4 separate regions of the Homo sapiens genome follow, and regions 1, 2 and 4 are each linked to region 3. The links come from fine-mapping of genetic effects on plasma protein levels. A gene starts in region 3. Each other region holds a variant in brackets. All regions are shown on one strand. Distances are from middle to middle. Region 1 overlaps CD101 (CD101 molecule). Region 2 overlaps CD101 (CD101 molecule). Region 3 holds the start of CD101 (CD101 molecule). Region 4 overlaps CD101 (CD101 molecule).

The links. PIP is the posterior inclusion probability: the model's chance that the variant is causal. Protein levels are from antibody-based Olink assays in UK Biobank. Linkage for the fine-mapping came from a reference panel and not from the study's own genotypes, which makes the PIPs less certain.
Region 1: its variant is fine-mapped to the plasma level of the CD101 protein (UK Biobank, PIP above 0.99).
Region 2: its variant is fine-mapped to the plasma level of the CD101 protein (UK Biobank, PIP above 0.99). The variant lies in the coding sequence of CD101. If it changes the protein, the assay may bind it differently, which can mimic a change of level.
Region 4: its variant is fine-mapped to the plasma level of the CD101 protein (UK Biobank, PIP above 0.99).

What each region holds. Positions count from the first base shown.
Region 1 is chr1:117,016,580-117,021,729 of GRCh38, reverse strand. CD101 (CD101 molecule) reads right to left here. Exons shown (of 10, transcript NM_001256106.3): 5 at 4,257-4,640; 6 at 3,170-3,574; 7 at 1-157. LOC124904386 (a long non-coding RNA gene) reads left to right here. Exons shown (of 2, transcript XR_007066499.1): 1 at 1-2,618; 2 at 3,296-3,637. Among named protein-coding and RNA genes, the nearest start is that of CD101, 17 kb to the right of the region's middle. RefSeq lists an enhancer at 2,899-4,098. The variant C/A (reference allele first, on the strand shown) is at 2,558.
Region 2 is chr1:117,030,821-117,035,967 of GRCh38, reverse strand. CD101 (CD101 molecule) reads right to left here. Exons shown (of 10, transcript NM_001256106.3): 9 at 1,834-2,108. The coding sequence ends at 1,867. It overlaps CD101-AS1 (CD101 antisense RNA 1), which reads left to right. Exons shown (of 4, transcript NR_110786.1): 3 at 3,632-3,854. Among named protein-coding and RNA genes, the nearest start is that of CD101-AS1, 26 kb to the left of the region's middle. The variant T/A (reference allele first, on the strand shown) is at 2,068.
Region 3 is chr1:116,999,021-117,004,170 of GRCh38, reverse strand. CD101 (CD101 molecule) reads right to left here and starts at 2,411. Exons shown (of 10, transcript NM_001256106.3): 1 at 2,311-2,411. The coding sequence starts at 2,353.
Region 4 is chr1:117,010,391-117,015,540 of GRCh38, reverse strand. CD101 (CD101 molecule) reads right to left here. Exons shown (of 10, transcript NM_001256106.3): 3 at 3,575-3,991; 4 at 1,749-2,135. Among named protein-coding and RNA genes, the nearest start is that of CD101, 11 kb to the right of the region's middle. The variant A/G (reference allele first, on the strand shown) is at 2,689.

The sequences.
Region 1 (5,150 bases), 18 kb before region 3:
AGCCAAGAGGCATTAGTGGAAACAGGAGAAAAATACCAAATAATGGCTAACTGAAGGTTTCCATTGGACCGGGACAAGATGCTACATTCTATATCAGTGTTGGAGTTGATGGAGAGCTCTTGGACTTGACTCCTTGAATTCACTTTTAGCTTGCTCTCTAAATTTAAAAAAATGAAACAGTTACTTTGCTATGAAATAGAAAGTTAAGGTAGTAGAGACATTAGAGGTCAAGTATGACACTGCATCCTCCCGCCATCATATGGGTGAACTCCCTCTACAGTAGCCCCACTCACTGCTCATACAGCTTTTGAACAGCATCACTAGCTGACAAGGCAGCCCATTTCATCTCTGGACAGCTCTGCCCCTCCAGAATGCTTTCTGATATCAAGTTGAACTTTATCTCTTCATAACTTCCATCCACTAGTCCTAGTGCTACCTGTGCTTGGTAGGGGTGGTGTGGCAGAGGGAGTGTCACACAGACAAGCCCAGTATCTCTCTTCCACATGATACTGCTTCGGTATTTAAGCACAAGCATCTCTTCTGTCATATTTCATGTATCAGATTGGGAGAAAGTGGCCCTATTAATGCTGTGTTTGTGTGTTTACTATGCAGAGTACTTCTGGATTCACAATTTCCAAACTCTAGTTGTATCTGCCTTCAAACGTGGGTAAACAAAAGGAAGTTGTACATGAGTGATTAAAACTGTGTGTGTCTTTGCAGTCACTTAACTGTGGGAACATTGTATAGATATGGAGCCAACTAATCTTTGACCCCAGCAGCTTTTCTGCTTTGTCAGAAAGATGAGTGACAATCCTTGTTCCCAAATCTTCTTCTAGCATCTTGCTGACATCACCCACTCTACTTTTTTAACTGCTTATTGATGTTGCCCATAGGTCCCTTTACTCTTCCTTCAACAAATATTTATGAAGCACACACTATATTATGTGCCAGACAATTCCAGGCCCTGTGGATATCTTCCCTCAGTGGCTCACACTCTAGAGGGAGACAAGTGCAGGGACAGAGGCTTAGAGATGGTGCCAAGTGCCATTTGTAGACAAAGAGCCATTCTACCACAGCACAGTGATATTTGCCCTGATCACTGTCTTCCACATTTAGAATGTGCAGCTGAAATAACTCTTGAGAAACCTTTCTCAAGTGTGAGATTTTTGGTTGTTTTGTTTTGTTTGAGATGGAGTCTTGCTCTGTCGCCCAGGCTGGAGTGCAGTGGCATGATCTTGGCTCACTGCAACCTCCACTTCCTGTGCTCAAGCGATCCTTGTGCCTCAGCCTCCTGAGTAGCTGGGACTACAGGTGCACGCCACCATGCCTGGCTAATCTGTGCATTTTCAGTAGAGACGGGGTTTCACTATGTTGGCCAGGCTGGTCTCAAACTCCTGACTTCAGGTGATCTGCCCGCCTTGGCCTCCCAAAGTGTGGGATTACAGGTGTGAGCCACCACACCTGGCCTCAGTGTAAAATTTTTGTTCCTCATGTCCCTCATGTAAGACAGAGGTATATAGAAGTGCCTATCTGAGCACACAGCAGGGTCTCCTAGCCCAAATACAGGAGTGAGGGGAGACTTCCTGGAGGAGATAATTCTGAGCTGAGTCTTAAGGGTTTATAGGAATTATTCCGATGGAGAAGAGGTTAAGGATTGCCACACAAAAGATGCAACTAGATCAAAGACTTTGAGAGTGAGAGGGAACATGGACAATTGAGGAGCTGCCAGTAATTCAGTGTGGCTGAAGCTCAAATTCACGATGGAAAGTTGAAGGAGATGATGCTGGAAAGACACAAATGTACCAGATGATAAAGGACCTTGCATGTCACACTGTGGGAGTTTAGATACAAGGTGAACATAAGAGTTGTGATGACTCAGGTTTTCAACTTGGGTCACTGGTGAGGAGTGGGGACATAAGGGGCAATGCAGAAGAAAGAGCTTTGGATGATAATGGTGGGTTTATGTTTTGACATAATGAGTGCAGGCATGTCTTGGAGACAGCTGGATATACGAGTCTGGAGATCAGAAGAGAAATTGGTCAAGATAATGAATGTGGGAGTTGTGAACATACAGCTTGTATCCATGGGTAGGGACGAGTCCACTGCAGGAGAGCGTATAGAATGAAAAGAGAACAAAGCTAAGAATAGAATCCAGAGAAACTGTTTTCTTTAAAGAATAAATCAGTGGAGGAGAAAATGAAAATCTTGTGTCATGGTGCCAAGGAAAAAAGAAGTTTCAAGAAGACAGATTGGGGCAGCAATTGCAAATACCACAGAGAGGACAAATTAATTAAGCATGAATTCATGAACAAGGGGATCATTACTATTACCAAAAATGTTGCACAGCAGCAGAGAGAATAATGACAGTGACCACGTTTGAGCGTCATCTTGGTGTGTCAGGTACTCGGCATGTTATATATGTCACCATATTTAAATTGCACATTAACAATTTACAGATCAGGTAACTAAGGCTTCAGCAGATTAAGTGTCTCATCCAAAGCTGTTCTGCTATCCAGTGACTGTCAGATCTAAATGACTCCAACGTCTCTCCATCACT[C/A]TTCCTAAGAGAATGCAAACTATAAGAGAGAAGATACATGACACAGCAGAACTTTGCCTAGGTAGTATCTCACTTTTAACTCCTATGCTCTATTATCAGTTGATGAGATGGATTATATTTGATTGTAATAATAAATTCTCTGACTCTTATACATTAACACCTTACAAAGAAGTAGGTGGATGTATTCCAGTGGAATTTACCTTATCCCTACCACTAGCAGAGACACTGCAAATGTTTACTAACTGGTAAGGCCTGGACAGTGACTAATCCAAAACATTTCTTCTCCCCTCTAGCCAGGTCCTAGAGGCCCCCTGCTGTGCCACGTGGTACCCTTTAGTTGCTGGGTGGTGGGAACTTAGGGGAAAATGGGGAATGGGTAGAGAGCAGCAATTAGCCAGCATGGAAGGTATTTCAATGTTTTAACAACCAGTATGGCCAACCCATGCATACTAACTCAATGTTAACCTGGGTATCATTCATCATGTGGTGCTTACTTAGATAGAACAAATATGGGAGAAAGTATTTTATGTTTTATTGTTATAACTTACCCAAAATGGGAGGATTGCTATTTGTTTGTTTTTAAAACAGGGATTAATTTCAAGTCACACTTACCTGGTAAAGTGACGGCTATCCTCAGTGGGTGAGAGATGGCAGAAGCCCTCGGGGGGCGGTTGTTGTATAGGGAATTTCTGTCATAAACTTCTACTTCACACTGATACACTCCTGTCTCTTCCTCAGTGGCATCATGGACTAGGAGTTGTGAACGAAATAAAGACTGCGACACTTTCGTCTTCTTTTGGAACCGGGATAGGAAATTCCCCCATTCAATAGTGCCATTGTGGGTGATTCGAATAAGCTGGTGGAAGATGTGAGAGCTAGCTGGCTGGAACTGCCACGTCACAGTGAGTGGCACCTTGAGGTCAGAGTAACCGGCCCTCACGACACAGGACAGGTCAAAGGTGTTGGTTAACATCACTTGCGGCTGACGGCTCATCAGACTAACTTGTAAACTTGACTCTAGACAGAAAAATGAAACAGAATTTCTAATATATTTACCAGATTAAAATATAGCACTTTCAAGTTTTTCTAGTTGCCACCTCTTTGACTAGGACCATGCATTTGTACATTTGGAGTTTCCTATTTTATAGAGTAGAAATTGATTCCCAGTACAGTCTGTCCTGAACTGTGACCTCAATTTTGCAAAGTTGATCCTTTTCTAAGACTGTTCCCAGCAGCCACAACAAATAGGCAGTGTTTCTCCAATCTGCTACTTAGACAGCTGCTGCTGAGTGGGTGGAGCACTCCCCACCCTAGTCGTCTGGCCTCCTTCCCTTACCCCCATGCGTGGGTTCAGTATCAGAACCCTTTTGCACATGCTTCAATGGGCTCTGCAATCCCAGGGCCACAGCTGTCAAAAGCCAGAAGGTAAGAGGCTCAGCTATACTCGTCTATAAGCTGATCCATAGGATTTTGTTTTTAACCTTGAACAACAATTTACAAGTTGCACTCTAAAGATGATCTTTACAAAAATGAAGAATCTTTAAAGATTAATTGACAGAGAGGGTAGCCAGAGACTAGCTCTGTGTCCTAGGGTACACATACCATCACTGGGGGATTCAGGATAACACGCAATCCAGTTCCACTGCAGAATGAATTGAGTGATATACAGGTGCAGAAAAGGACTTCCTTTGACACTTACCCAGAGACTTTACAGTAACTGAAATCTTCTGAGTCCAGCTCAGATCTCTGGCCTGGTTCCGAGACTTCTCAGATACTCTGCACTCATATGTGCCACTGTCTGTGATGGCAGTGAAGGTGATCTCCAGCTGGAAGGTGGCCCAGTCCATTTTCTCCAGCCTTGTGTTGCCATGGTAACTGGGTACCCCATAGGAGGCACCCAGCTGCACAATGCCATCCTGCCCCATGCCAGCCACAAACTCGGGCTGTGTCTGGTCCCGTGGGATGTGCCACCAGCTCACAGACAGGGGACTTTCAGCTCCACCAGCCTTACAGAGAAAGGCGAGTGTCTCTCCTTCCCACACAACTTGCTGCTTGTTCTTGGTAGACATGACCACACTTCTTGCTGTGAGTTACAGATTATAGAAGAACAAAACTGTTTTAGGTAAATAAGAAATGTTCTAAAATACAGTGAAATTTCATTAATTAGGACTTGACTAGTTTGTGACAAGTCAAATTGGGCTGTTTCCTCTTGCACCACCCTCAGGCAAAAGATTTGCCAAACCTTAAATAGTGGAAACAAGATAGCAGAAAGAATATCGGAGGATGTATTCACCCTTAAACAATTTATTTATTTCTAAAGACTGGGTCTTGCTCTGTTGTGCAGGCTAGAACACAGCACTGTGATCTTAACTCACTGCAACCTCAAACTCCTTGGCTCAAGCAATTCTCCTGCCTCGTGCCTCAGTAGCTGGGACTACAGGCACGTGCCAACATGCTGGCTAATTTTTAAATTTTCTGTAGAGATACGGTCTCTCTTTGTTACCTAGGCTGGTGTTGAACTTCTGGCCTCAAGCGATCCTCCTGTCTCAGCCTCCCAAAGGGCTGGGATTACAGGCATGAGCCACTGCACCCA
Region 2 (5,147 bases), 32 kb before region 3:
CAGAGTCCATCCAAGATTCTCTGCCCAGGCTCACTTCTGCTCTCTTTCCCTTTGAATTAAAATACAGGTTTCTAAAAAATAGGGGCAGGGGGTCATCACACTTTCTAAGAGTCTTCTGCCGGGCGTGGTGGCTCACGCCTGTAATCCCAGCACTTTGGGAGGCCGAGGCGGGTGGATCATGAAGTCAGGAGATCGAGACCATCCTGGCTAACACGGTGAAACCCCGTCTCTACTAAAAATACAAAAAAAAATTAGCCAGGCATGGTGGCGGGTGCCTGTAGTCCCAGCTACTTGGGAGGCTGAGGCAGGAGGATGGCGTGAACCCGGGAGGCGGAGCTTGCAGTGAGCCCAGGTCACACCACTGCACTCCAGCCCGGGCGACAGAGCGAGACTTCATCTCAAAAAAAAAAAAAAAAAAGTCTTCATTTCAGCTTTGTTGTTTGTAAAAATATGCTCCCTTACCTGGATGACAAGAAACAAATGTGCTGACATGTTTAAGGAAAGATTTGGAGTATTTTAAATCAGGCTATGAAGGGACATGAGTTTAAGGAACTGGTAGGTCCATAGTAGGAGTGCTCATAGCCACCAATAATCCCCTTAGGAAGGAACTAATTATGTTTGGAGAGGACGTGTGTGCCTGATCAAATAATTAAAACTAAATTGCTCTCCTTGGAAATGCAAATTAACGAGTGTTAAAGCAACTCGGTTGGTCACATAGATAATAAATAGATGTGTTTTCTCAAGTCTTTAGGTGGCACTGATTGATTTCCAATTCTGGCTACAACAGGGCCTGAGCGGCTTTTGAAACAAAGATGAGGGGACTGTAGGCCCAGTGGGGACAGCTGTTGAAAGCTTTAAGCCATTACACCCCACCCCCACCGGCTGCTTTTTGCTACTGAGAATAGGAGACCTTGAGGAACCAGACTTGACCTACTGCTGCCCCAAACCCCAGCCCTGCAGGCGTATGAGGGAACGGTGGCACTGTCAACCCTGCTCCTCCAGACAATACCTTCCCTACCACCCAGTGCTGTCAGGTCAAAGAAAATAAGGCACTGGCTGAGCACCAGGAGCCAGATGGACCTTTTGGTGGGGATATGGAGGTGTAGGGGGAAGCAGGGGTACGAGGCCTTGGGGGGCTGACTGGAGTACTGTTACATGAGTTTTTACAAAGTTTTTGCTCAGCAATTACTTAATAAAAAGTCTTATCAAACAATAAACAAAAAGCCCCAAACTCAGGTTACAAATGTTTTATCATTTTGTCAAAGAACCTGTATTAGTTAAGCACCTTTACACAGAACTTGCTCTTGAGTGGGCCTTTGTAGGTGGGCTGGGAGAAGAAAATTGAATTTCTGCCTCGAAGGAAGTTACATTCTTGTTGTGGGGACAGATTTTAGGTAAACAAAGAGCATGTTACCAATTCCTTTTTCCTTGCTGGCATCAGGTCCTTTCCTACACCTCTCATCTGGAGGAAAATGATTACCTAGAGCAGGTGTGACAAGTGACATAAGAGGGAGAGAGAAGCCCCACCAGGGCATTGCTGTAGGATCTCATTTAGCCCTCCAGAGGCTGTGTGAGGGAGCCTCTTATCTCCTTGCAGCCCAGGGACCTGAACCTTCAAGAGATGTAGGGTAATGATGCTATCTTGTTCCAAGGGGGGATGCGAGAGGTGGATGAGGTAAGACACAAAGGAACACCTAACAGTGCGTAGAACCAATAAGCACTCAGTGAATGCTCCCTCTGATTCCTAGGTAACTTGCCCAAGGCCGCAGACATAGTTGAGGACAGAACCAGGATTCATTCACACCCTGGTTAGCCCAATTAAAAAGCCCCCACCTTTCCTTCCTGGCTGCAGGTGCCTCTTGGGATTCAGTTGCCTTCATCTTCCTCCTCGTCTTCCCTCCTATTTGTGGTCACACCTCCAGCCTCTTTCAAGTCCACCCAGAGAGCTTTTTCTTTCCGTGTGTTGGAACGCAGTGTTGACAACTTCCTGGCCTTCCAGTATAAGCAGAGGAGGGAGATGAGCAGAAGGAGGAGCAGGACGAAGGGACAGATGAACAGGAAATAGAG[T/A]AAAGGGGCCGAGGAGCAGATCCTGGAAGGAAGCGTGGGCTCTGCAACGAAGGGAGAAACAAGAGAGTAATTCATCTCCAACTTATTTGTACTAGTCAATTACAAACACTCCTGGGATTTATTGTTATAGGCAAGTATATGTAAAAATAATGGGGCCAAATAGCAGTGGGCCCCTGAAATCATGAGGAGCACAGGACAGAGCACTGGGGGAAGAGAGCTCCTGGAACAGGCTCTTCTAATGCAACAGCCCCTTGCCCTGCGATTTCCAACCACTGGAGGTTCCAATGACCTACTTAAAACTAACAGCCAAAATGAAAAACAAAACAAAAAAGAAAACCTCTCCTTTAATCTTCTTTCTTCAGAAAAGATATCTATAATTCAACCCTCGTTCTCAACAGTGTTGCCAGTCCTGAATTTTTAACTGAGTTATTCCCACTGCTGCTCCTCCAACACACAGGCACACACTCTTTCTCACACACACATACACACACACTCTGCCCTGCACTCTGCACTGTCCTTATAAAACAATCACACCCACAATAAGAAGCCCCTACCCCCGCTGACCCAAGCCTGGCCCTCCCTGTGGGTCTCCTCCTTCCCCGGCCCCCTCCCTCCCACTCCTTTCCTGTGTTGCTCTGGCTGTGGCCACCACCTGACATGCTCCATGCATCTGAGCCTCTAGGTCCTTCTGGCCTAGCTCCATCACACTTCCTACTCTCTCAGCTCTTCCTACCTTGCTGCAGGCACAGTTCTTCTCTTCCATCCCGTTCTCACTCAGCCCTTTGTTTAGGCCTCTTTAATTCCCTTTTACTCGTCTCCTTTGTTCACTATAGTTACTTGAGTATGTCTGATAGTGCCATTTGTTTCTATATCCCCTACAGTGCCTAGCACATGTGCTCAGTAACTTTTGCTGATCTGAATTAAATTGGATTGACTGCAACCACATGGGCAAAAGATACTATATAAAGGCATGCTGAAGCATATGATCATCCCGCAGCTGCAGTCCGCCGGGAAGCACTATCAATCAGCAGATACACACGCAGAGCACGCACAAGCAGCCCCAAAGTGGCTCCTGGCCACACGGCCAGGAAAGCAAAGGCCCAGAGGACTGCAAACACCACAGGTTTCAGGAAACAGTCTATTGAAGCAGAAAGACACATGCTTAAAGAGACCAATTACTAAATGTAGTCTTCCAATTACATTTATTTATGACATGATATCTGAAATCAGGGCTGTTCTGAAATATTCAATGCTAACTGTAGCTGTGCTTTTACTGGAAAATTGTAATGACATAAGCAATTTCTTCTTCAAAGGTTAAGCTACAGGATTCATGGGATTATGGATGCTTAGAGATGAAAGAGGTTTAGAGGTCATTTTGACCAACCTCCTGCTGCAAGAATTCCATTTTTGGCATTGCCGACGAATCCTACATGTTAAAGAACATCTCTTTGATGATAGTCAAGAAAGAATCTAGACATTCGCTCACCTCCTGCACTGTGAGCTCCTTGAGGGTAGGGCCTGTGTCTTGTGTGTCTTTTTATCTTCCTCAACTCTTTGTTCACAGGGTCTCAATGGAGCCTGATGAATGAATCAATTGCATGAGTACATTCCACACATGGGAACCCAGGGATGGCTGCCATCATGCTATACAAAGTACAGATCATCACTGAACATTAGGCTGGCAGCTCTGAATGGGGCTGGCAAAGAGCAGCAGAGGTTCATGGCCTGGATTTTCTCTGATCTCATTTGTATCCTTCATCCTAAATTTAGTTTTGTTTTTTGAAATGGTGAGCAATGATAAAGTTAGGTTTTGAATTCTTTACCATCCCTCTGCTCCACATCCTATCTGACCCCTCTTCCAATGACCCTGCTTGACTACAGTTATTCTCCCCCGGTCTTATCTGAGTACATTTGAAGGCCCGTGGCTAGAAGGAAGCATAGACTGCAATGATGCAAGTGAATGGAGCCATGGAGTCCAGGTATTATAAGCACTGGCTGTGAGCATTTGTGCAGAGTAGTGAATGAGCACCTACTGTGTTTCAAAGAGAGCTGAGTTCAAATCCTCAATCTTCAATGTGCTGTTATTGACATTGGATAAGTTACTTATCCTCTCTTAATCATTAGTTTCCTCATCAACCAAATAGGGATAACAATTTCTAGAGTTGTGATGAGATAATGTATAATAAAGCATCTAACGAAGTGCCTAAAGCATTTGTGGAGTCAGCAAGCAATAAATATTAGCTAGAATGCTACTGAGAAAGCTAAGAAAATCACAGGAAACCTTCTCCCAAGAGAACAGACAGAGAACAGGGCTGGAGCCTACAGATATCTCTCCCACAGGGACCCCAGGCTTGGCCATCTTCCTCCACAGGCTCTCTCTCCCTTACATCTCTAGTCCCCCTGTCCTCAGACCTGGGTGACATTCAGCAAAGACTGAAATGATTACTTAGGAGGCCCTGGCTTCCTTTTCTACTCATGGGAGGCAGAGAATTGTGAGGTTAGAGTCCACAGCACCAGGTATTACAGTTGCTAGAATGGTGGGGTAATGATGGCGAGATGGGGCCACTACACAGGAGGTGGAAATAAATCTGCTACTCTGCTTTTCAGCATGAAGGAACAGCCAGAGGGCTTGGCTATCTTGGTGGGGAAGAGGCTGCCCAGCTTAGTGCAATCTGCCATCAAAGGATGGCAAGGTGTGCCCCTTACCATGCTGAAGTGGCCAACAGCTAGCAACTGTTAGTGCCTGTGCTGTTAAATCACCTCTCCTGGGAGGCCAGTGTTTGCTCTGCATCCCACAGTCACCATTTCCCACCATCTGCCTCTCACCCATATCTGGATTAGAATTAGTGACATTCAAACCATTAAGGTTTGGCATTTTGATCAATCTAAGTAAGTGCCCAATGCTCAAAGTACAAGGTCTTCAAAACAAAGCCAAAAATGTAATGAGAGCACTTCATCATGAGGCTTAGTTTAGAACGTGCTTCCACCCACAGCCAAGCACAGCAAAAGGAGCACTCCTTTTTGATATTTCCTCAGAGACACTGACTTCAGAAGAAAAGAGGTGTGAGATAAAGAGGGGG
Region 3 (5,150 bases):
AATAGCCCTTCCCCCAAACCCTGCCATATTAATGGCCATTATTTGTAGGGCAGCTAGTTTGGGTGGGGGAAATAGATCAAGCAGACAAAGCTAACTGCTAAATCCGAGAACTCATTTACCCATGACATTAATCTCATATGGCACCATTTTCTATCAGGATTGTTCAGTCCTTATATTTACTAAAAAAAAATTGGGACAAAGTGTAAATTTGCTAACCAATGTAATTGATCAATAGATCGTTATTTAAATAATTTATTTCAATTCCCCTCTATATTTGTAAGGACAAACAGCAGACTTCTAAAGCTTTTTCCAGTAACTTCCTGATTTATGTATTCTTCACATAAAAACTGTGCTTCTACACAAAATTAGTGCTTCAGATGAGTCAGAATTTAGAAGAAGTAAATGTATAACCCAGTTTAGGTAATTGTTTAAATGGGTTAAGGAAAAGCTTCCAGCTTCCCCTTTTTGAGCCTTGATTACTACTTTCCTTCCCCCAGGGCTTCTAGCCTGCTTACCAAAAAAAGAGACAGAATTTGCAATTCTATGAATTATTGCACAATGTAAACCCAGTTTCCTCCTATATACATAGCAAACATAGAATTCAAATACACAAAGCACATACACTTGAGAATCACACTCAGACAACTTAACCAAACAACAAAAACACACCAGCCCCCAAAGGATCCCACCAGTGCACCTATCCATCAACACCCGCCAAGCCAGTCTGGCAGGCATCCGTCACCCAGCAAGTGGTCCCAGTAACTTCCCCTGCAGGCCCTAGGTCTGACTCTTAACCTCACACTATCATATGTACCTAGAGACATGAGCACAATTCAACTCAATCAATGTTTATTAAGCAACCTCTTTGTGCTGAATGCTGTATTCTTTTCTTTTAATTCTTCAGCCATAGTCCTGGTCACACCAAATGCAGCTTGGTTTAGTTCCCCAATCATCCCAGCCATTCGGGTCCCTGCACTGGCTCCATCCAGTCTCTCTAAAGCAAGAGTTTTGTTTGTTTGTTTGTTTTTTTAGATGGAATCTCACTCTGTCACCCAGGCTGGAGTGCAGTGGCTCAATCTTGGCTCACTGCAACCTCCACCTCCCAGGTTCAAGCGATTCTCCCACCTCAGCCTCCCAAGTAGCTAGGGCCACAGGTATGTGCCACCATGCCCAGCTATAAAGCAAGAGTTCTTAACTGGGTCCACATGTAGGATTAAAGGGTCCATAAACTAGGGTGAAAAATAATCTTACATCTTTATTTTCATTTTTGCCTCTAATGGAAATTTAGTATTTTCTTCAGTTATGTATGTAGACAACCACAGATATCTTCATATCACATTACAACTACTTAAGATATATTGAAATGTTATTTATACTCATCATTACTTTGAAGTTTGGTGGTTAAAAGACCTACCTGTAGATTTTGTTATGTAATGCATAAATAAGAAGCAAATAAATTACTGCATTATAATTTATTTAAAATATTTTGATACCTGTATTTCAATGTGACTGATTTCCTCTGTAATTCTATGCATTTTATTTTATGCATTTTAAACATTATTCTGAGATGGAGTCTATTCTCTTTACCAGATGTTAATGAAAACTGTAGCATAAAAAGTACCTGCTATCTGGTTTGAAACTATTCCATTACCTGCTCAACTCATCTGACTCTCCCTTCTACCTCCAAATTTTCTCTTCTTCCATCCTATTCAAACATAGATAAATGCCCCTAGATCAGGCAAGCCCCTCTGCATGGCCCTCAGTAGAGCCAAGTGAATCTTCCTGTTCATTTCTCAGTCTCTCAGTAGTCAATTTCCACTTCCACTCGCAGGTGAAATCTAGAACCTTCTTTTAGCATAGTCTAAAACTACTAAGTACTTTCATAACCTTTCTTTCCATCCAGTCATATCTGCAAGGCATAGTTATCCCATCAAGCCTTAATATCAGGCAAACCTTAAGGTCTCCTCTCAGTTTGGGACACAAAGCTTTTTTACTGTCTCTTGGGATGATCGGCCCAGGAAGATGAGTAAAGCCAGGGCCAAGCAAAACTGACAGATCTGGCAACACACACAAATGTTAAAACCAATGGAATCTTGTGCATGGGACTCAACCAAGCATTGTGACTCCCTGGAACTCAAGGATGTCTAGGTAAGCCAAGAACTGTCATTAGTAAGTCAAAAATTATTGCTAACATCAGAAATATATGGCATAGTTGTTCCTGTAGAGACCAAATTGTCCTGTTCCATCACTCAGCACCCTGAGTTGATGAACTCCTGTGACAAGAGAAACATAAAGGATTATGAAACTTACTCAGAAGGAGAAAGAAAGATGCCACATATGAGATGCCTGCCATTTGGGCCAGCACAGTCCTTTTTCGTCCCAATAGTGTCACTAACATTCAGAGGTTGAGTGACAAATGCTGTGCTCTCACTGCAAAGTAAAGAGGAAGCAAAAGTGTGGTTTTCAGCCCACTGAGAAATAGAGATGTCTTGTGAAAAGCAAAACTGGTTACATTATGTAGCTCTTTACTAATCACTCAAATTTGGGAGTAAAAAAGTTATCTTTGTGGTTAAGTAAACAGATATCGATAAAACTAAGAAAAGATGGGTCTCAACCTGGCTCACAGTATGTGTCATTTGGTAATGATGAGAGAATTTAGGTAAACTGAATAAATAAAAAAGGCACCAGCAATGTTGTCTTCTTGGCCCTTCCTTCTCCTCCTCTCTTGAGAGAGGAAATGACTGAGAAATGGGAGAAGGCCCCTGAAAAACATGAACTTGGGGCGACATGAGGTGGTGCTGAAGGTTACAGGCTCTAGAGTCAGGCTGCCTGGGTTTGCATGCAGATTCTAGTTTTAGTAACTGTGCAATCTTAGAAAACTTAATTAACTTTTCCTAACCCTCATTGCTAAAATGAGGATACTAATAGTAGGTACCCTGTAAGATTACTGTGAATGCCAAATGAGCTAATTTTTTAATTATTTTTTTATTTCTTTTTTTTTGTATTTTACTTTTTTTTATTATTATTATACTTTAAGTTCTAGGGTACATGTGCACAACGTGCAAATTTGTTACATATGTATACATGTGCCATGTTGGTGTGCTGCACCCATTAACTCGTCATTTACATTAGGTATATCTCCTAATGCTTTCCCTCCCCCTTCCCCCGACCCTATGACAGGCCCCGGTGTGTGATGTTCCCCTTCCTGTGTCCAAGTGTTCTCACTGTTCAATTCCCACCTATGAGTGAGAACATGCAGTGTTTGGTTTTTTGTTCTTGAGATAGTTTGCTGAGAATGATAGTTTCAAGCTAATTTATTTAAAGCACTTAGAACAATATCTGGTACATAGTAACTGCTCAATGAATATTAGCTACCATCATCACCATCATGAGACATTTAAGTAAATCTTCATCTGCCCTGTGAAACTGCCTTTGCAAAAATTGTAACAGTGAGAAAGTTATGACAGTGAAAGGGATCTGACCTCACCATCTCCATCTTGCTTCTAACTTCCAAGCTGCCCTTGTTAATTCCTGGTTGTAGGCCAAACTAACTTTGGGAGGAATTTAGCTTAGTTTAATTTTGAAACAAAGAGGATAACAGCCCTTTCTGGAAACAAACCCCCTTCTTGCCTGGGGAGCAGACTTCCCTAGTAAGACTAACAAATTAGCCACAACATTAGAAATTATGGTTTAGGAGTCATGCAGCCAGAGGCCACACAATTCCAACCTCCCCAACTGTTCCTAGGGATAACATCACTATTGTAAAACCTAAATTGGTGCTCAAGGTATTTTTCAGACCCTGCATCCTGATGCACCAGCTGACACCATCCAGGCTGGTGATCTGGTTCCACCAGTTCTTTGATCCCACTTAGGAACGGAAGACTGCAAGAACCCCCTTTGATCCCCTGTGATTTCATCTCCTACCTGACCAATCAGCACTCCCCACTCCCTGGCCTGCCAAATTATCCTTACTAACTCCAGTCTCTGAATTTCCGGGGAGACTGATTTGAGTAATAAAACTCTGGTTTCCCATTTAGCTGGTTCTGTGTGAATTAAACTCTTTCTCTATTGCAATTCTCCTGTCTTGATAAGTCTGTTCTATCTGGGCAGCAGGCAAGGAGAAACCTGTTGGGCAGTTACGCTAATGGGCAGTTACACCGATGTGAACCCAGGTATCAAGGATGGCAGAGGAGTATCTAAATGCAACAGTTGGCCCTGAACCTAGACTAATACTACGCTAGTGCTAGAGTTCTCAGGAAGCTTCCACTTAAATCAGATAATCACAATGCAATGTGTCAACAATCAGTGGGGCACCTATAGGGGGTGGGGAAAATTGGTAGGCAGGAGGGAAGGTCAAGATGGATTGGGCTGGGCCAGGTGAGTCAATGAGTCATCTAGAGAGGCAGGGGGCCAAGGTACAGTTGGGGAAAAACCGTGTGGCATGAATAGTAACACACAGGCTGTACTATCTTGTTGGAATGAAGTTTGAGGTTGTTGTGAAAGAAGGATCTATACAGGTAGGATGGGCAGATCTTAGTGGGCTTCGTGTGCCAAGCCTAAGAGCTTGGCTTTTATTAATACCTCAAAGAAGAGGGAAGCTATGAAGATTTTTAGTGGTAGTATAGCCTGGTTGGATTTTCCGTTTTTCCTTTTAAGTTGAATTCTGTATGTGTGCATTGCTAACAGGTTGAAAGGTGAAGAAGGGAGACAAGGCTAGAAGCAAGAAGGTCAGTTACAAGGTTTTTGTAGTTGTCTCTATGAGCAATAATAAGGGCCTGAAGTAGGGCATTTAAAATAAAGACAGAGGCCGGGCGCAGTGGCTCATGCCTGTAATCCCAGCACTTTAGGTGGCAGAAGCGGGCGGATCACGAGGTCAGGAGATCGAGACCATCCTGGCTAACATGGTGAAGCCCCGTCTCTACTAAAAATACAAAAAAATAGCTGGGTGTGGTGGTGGGCGCCTGTAGTCCCAGCTACTGGGGAGGCTGAGGCAAGAGAATGGCATGAAGCCAGGAGGCGGAGCTTGCAGTGAGCCAAGATCACGCCACTGCACTCCAGCCTGGGCGACAGGGCGAGACTCCATCTCAAAATAAATAAATAAATAAAGACAGAGGTGGGATAGATAAAATAATCAAATAGTTACGGAATAC
Region 4 (5,150 bases), 11 kb before region 3:
TAAGTAACAAAGAGAGAATGAGGGTTAATGTCCATAAATATGTTTTTAAAAAGAGCAAATCTGCTTTCAAATTTAGTTTTTTTCAAGTTAAAAATAGACTCATAACTGAAGTTTCAAAATTGGAGGGGAAATTCACCACTTTAACATAACCATGATGATTAGTTTAAACTAATGATTTTTTTTTTAAATGATGTTTCCTTAGTTCATTGTGGCCATTACTGCCTTTTGGTAAGAAGTAATAAACTTATGAAATGTGTGCAAGTTACACATTCACAATGGTAATGAGTGATTAAAATATTCATAAATGATAAAATGTTGCTAATACTTCAAGTAACGTTTGACTTTCAAAACAGAATGCTAAACAGGATCCTTAATAAATTTGCTAATAACTTTTTCTGTGTCTACATAGTAAGCCCAGTGTAGACTCCAGCCTATACAAAGAACTATTTTTAGTTTTAGAAGATGACCCTATTGATAGGATTATCAGCTGTGTACCCTGAAGTTCCCCTTCAGGTGAAATTCCCACATACCAGGTTTACAAAAGCCTGCAGATATGTTCCAGAGAAGGCTGAGATGCATAAAGCAGAAACTTATCTCTGCATAAATATGTGAACTCACCTATATTGTTTTTCCTTAATTCTAGAAAGTCAGACCAAATGTTTAGTGTGAAAACGAACACCAACACACTTCCTGGCCTGCCACTCAAGGCCAAATCGGTGCATCTTCATTCCTAGTAAATGGCATATTGGAGAACATGAAAGGAAAATTTATCTATCTTTGGAGATGTCTCCAATGAGCCAGTGCAACAAGGACACCTTTATTTTTAGCTCAGTTTTTAAAAATTTAAAACATTAAAAAAAATTTTTTTTGGGCAATTAATCTTTCTGGACTTTGAATTTAAACCCAGCCTAGTGAATCCTTATATTAGTTGCAGATATGTCTGTTTTTCTTCACAAAAGGCACTGATTATTCAAACATGTTTAAGGTCACCCAACCTTCATAAAGTAAAGGTGAGCTGAGTGGCTTCCTCAGTTCCGTGCATGCAGACATTCAGAACCATTTGGACCGGCGTCTCACCACATCACAGCAAAATGCAGAGGATGGAGTCTGCCCACTATCAATTACCTCTTCATTTCTTACTGTGAGTCAGAATTATGACTAAGTACTATTTCCCACACCAGGTCAACATAGTAGGAGACTAACAGAAGGCAACTGAAAAATGCCGGCAGGGTCTCAAGGTAGGATAACACGGGTGTTCATTCCTCAGGAAGGAGGACAAAGTGTAGCTTTTTACTCTTAACCTATTCATATCACACACACACACACACACACACACACACACACACACACACACAAAGGCAGAGGGCTTCATTAATACACATGTTCTCTGCTTTAAGAAATATCTAATACATAAAAATTAGAACAAAAAATAAATAGACTCTAAGATAGCAAGAAGGAACTTAAAGACCATCTAGTTGTGTGCCATCATTTTACAGATGAAGGAGCTGAGACTTAGAGACGTAAAGTGGTGTGTTCATGGTCACAGACTACTTAATGACTCAGGAATAGGACTCGGGTCTTCAGCTAGTTTGGGTGCCTTCCTTTACTCCACTCCACTCCACCTCCAATGTGATCTGATTGAAACCTGCTCTTCATGAAGATCCCCATTGTATCCACGAAGGGGTCTTCCACTGACAAGGGGGCATCTGAAAGCAGCCCAATGCATGCCTGGCCTTGACTTTACGTACCTGCTGGCTTCCTCAGGTGCACGTGGCTGTCTGGTGACTGCTTTCTCTGAAGCACCTGCCAGGAACCTGTGCGTGTTTTCATGACCTCTGCTACCACACATCTGTAGGCGCCTTCATCCTCTGGGCCCAGAGAGAAGATCTTGAGAGAGAAAGCCTTGGGGCCTAACTTTGAAACCTGGAGCTCTCCTTGACTTGCTCTCTCTTTGTAGTCATTCTTCAGGCCCAGGACTCCACCAGCATCAATGTGAGCAATTTCAGTCCCATTGAAGAACCAAATGCCTTGAAGCTGTGGGTCACGGCCACTGCTTACAACCAGGCAAACCAGTTCTAAGGGTTTCCCTTCAGCAAACAAGCTGTCAGCTGTAATGTTGACTTGAAAATCTTTCACTGGGAAACAAAAGCAAGGCAGGTATTTAGAGAGCCCACAGCCTCTGTCCTTTCAGTACCAGAGAGAGATGACACCCTCTGTAAGGATGTCACAGGGATCACATTTTATGTGGGAGTTCAATTCTATAGCGGTAGGTAAACCCAAAAAAAACAAAATCCTTAGAGTAAAAAACGCTCATGACTCTTCCTTAAATCACCCAGAAAGGACAGTACACATGGTTTTCTGAATGCACTCTTAGTAAGCAAGATGTATGCACAAATGTATGACACATATAGTAATGTATGCTTTTTAAATTAAAAAATAAAATATTGTATACTGAATTAAATATATATATTAAATATTTTACACTAAATTGCTGTAAATTGTGATTTCTTACTCTCTTTTTTGGCTAAGAATATCCAGCAGAATTTTCTGAAGTTAAAAAGCACATGTGATATCGCTCCATAGGACTCATGAGTATAACTTGGATACTTGAGGCCAACAGGACAATTTTTAGTGGAACACAATAATACTGTTTTTAATAAAGAAAAAACTTTAATGATCCACTATTGG[A/G]TCATTGCTTTTAGCAATGCATATACAGTATATGGTTTAGCAACCACTTCCTGTTGGACAAAAGCCTATAGAGACCAGGAATCACAGACAAGGCCTTTATACTTGCTTTGACAAAAATGCCAAAAGATTATGAAAAGTAACAGCAGGCTGGGTGCGGTGGCTCACGCCTGAAATCCCAGCCCTTTGGGAGGCCAAGGCAGGAGGATTGCTTGAGCCCCGGAGTTCAAGGCCAGCCTGGGGAACATAGCAAGATCCTGTCCTTAAAAAAATTTAAAAATTAAAAAAATAATAAAAAAGCAAAGTCACTGCATTCCAAGTTGGGAAAGGGGGCAGGTGGAAGGAAACCCCAGCACTGACGAAGACAAGGCTTCATGTTGGAAACTGGAGCTACTTTGAGGCCCAGCTGTCTGTGCTGAGTGGGCTTTGGAGAGAGACAGGCCTCCCTTTGAATGCCAGCCCCACTCTCACCAGCTGGGTGGGCTTAGGCAGCGCATCTAGCATGTCTGAAGTTCAGAGTCCTCATTTTTAAAATGGAGACTCAACTACTTGCCTCATAGGGTGGTGGTTACGACTAAATTAGATAATGTAGATAATGTGTGAACAGAGACTGGCAAAAATGGTAACAAAACTACTTCCATGACTGGCTTGTGGAATCGATCTAGCCACTCAGTAGACCTTATCCCATAAAGAATCCGTGGGCAGAGCCAGAACTGAATGTGCTCCCTCTTAGTTATGCTTCTCAGATGACAAAAATACAAAATTAAATCAAACTTTCTAGCCAATTTTTTAGAGCCAACAAAAGATTAGAACAAAAATTAAAACATACCTCATAAATACCCACTACCTAATACTAGTGTATTAATGAATTTCGTAGGAAGATAATTACCTGCTGGCTGGATCCTCAGAGTGGTTTGATCGGTCTGCTTTTTGGTGATGAACATCCAAGTTTCATCTGGATCCTGAATCCATTCCGTTGCCTCACAGAACAGCTGACCCTGATCTGAGGACTGGAGCCTCTCTATGGACAGCCTGAATGTAGTGGGTCCCAGTTTGTTGAGCTGTACGTCACTGGCTGCAAACCGCTCTGTATACAAGGGCCCAGGGACCAATATAAAATCTTTGGAGAGAGAAATAATCTCAGTGGCTTGGCTTCCTCCTCCATCCTGTGTTAGGTACCAGGTGACAGAGAGGTGAGTATGTTGGGCTGTGGCTTTGGATGCCTCACAGGTGAGGGCTAATGGCTCACCTTCCTCCTTACCGAGAGTCTGAGAACTCATGGTGGCAGAGAGGGTATCTGGAATAACTGGAAACAAAGGAATGATAATAATGTGACTGGCCCAGTGCTTGTCCAGTGGGCCTCCTTAGATGGCGCCCTGAGCTACCCTATGTAAAGCACACAGACTTTGAGTTGGTTTTCCACTTGCCATATGCTTTCCTATCCATATGCTTTCTCTATTGCCATTGGGAACATTGGCATCTAGGTACAGTCTACGGAACTGGGCAAAGTAAATGCCTCATCAATGTGTTGACCCTCACTTTGCTTTATTAACATAGGCTATAACCAATTTAGCTACTCAGACACAAAGCATGTATTTAAAGGGAGAAAGCACTGGGACAGAGAAACCTTAGATTCTGATCCTAAATCCATCCCTACTACGTGGACTTGGGCATGTCACTTCACCTCCCTGGGCCTTAACCTGCTCCTCTATAAGGCTGTGTAATAATCTAATAATGTAATAATGGCTGTTAAAATGTATCATTTAGAGCCCAAATGCAATCTTTACTAAAGTTTTGGTAACCATCTTACTACCCTACCATTCTTGTTTTCCTAAAATGAAATCACACAGCCTAAGCTTATATGAAAGCAACACTTAGATTTAATCAATGAATGTGACTGAGCGTCTACTCGGTGCTAGCCACTGAGTAGAAGCTGAGGATGTGGTGGGAAAGAGGCATACAAATAGCCAATTACCATGTAACTGGATACATGCTGAGAGCAGTGGTATGAACAATCTAAAGGAAACAAAAGTGGGAATTCTGCCCAAGCAGTCAAGATGAGTTCCACAGAAGAGGTAATATCTAAACTGGGTCCTGAAGTATATGTAGGAGTTTGTTAAGCTGAAAAGGGGGTGATAGATATTCCAGACAAAGGGACAAAGTGACAATTGCAAGGACTATCACCCTTTCCCAATGTGTAAATATGCTAGAGAATGGTAGTTTGAGAATTATCATTTCTAAGTTAATGACTTATCACCTATGGTACCAGCTTTCTTGTCAAATTACTGTTCTGCCTGCAAGCAGAGACAACACAGGGAGAACTCTCACAGCTTTGTTGAATGCTGTTGCTACTAGCAACCTATGGAGAGCTGCGGACAAGGCCTTGGGAAAACCACACACCATCTAAATATTTATGGCAAAGATAATTGAGAAAAAGAAACAGATAATTTTAGAGAATATGAGAT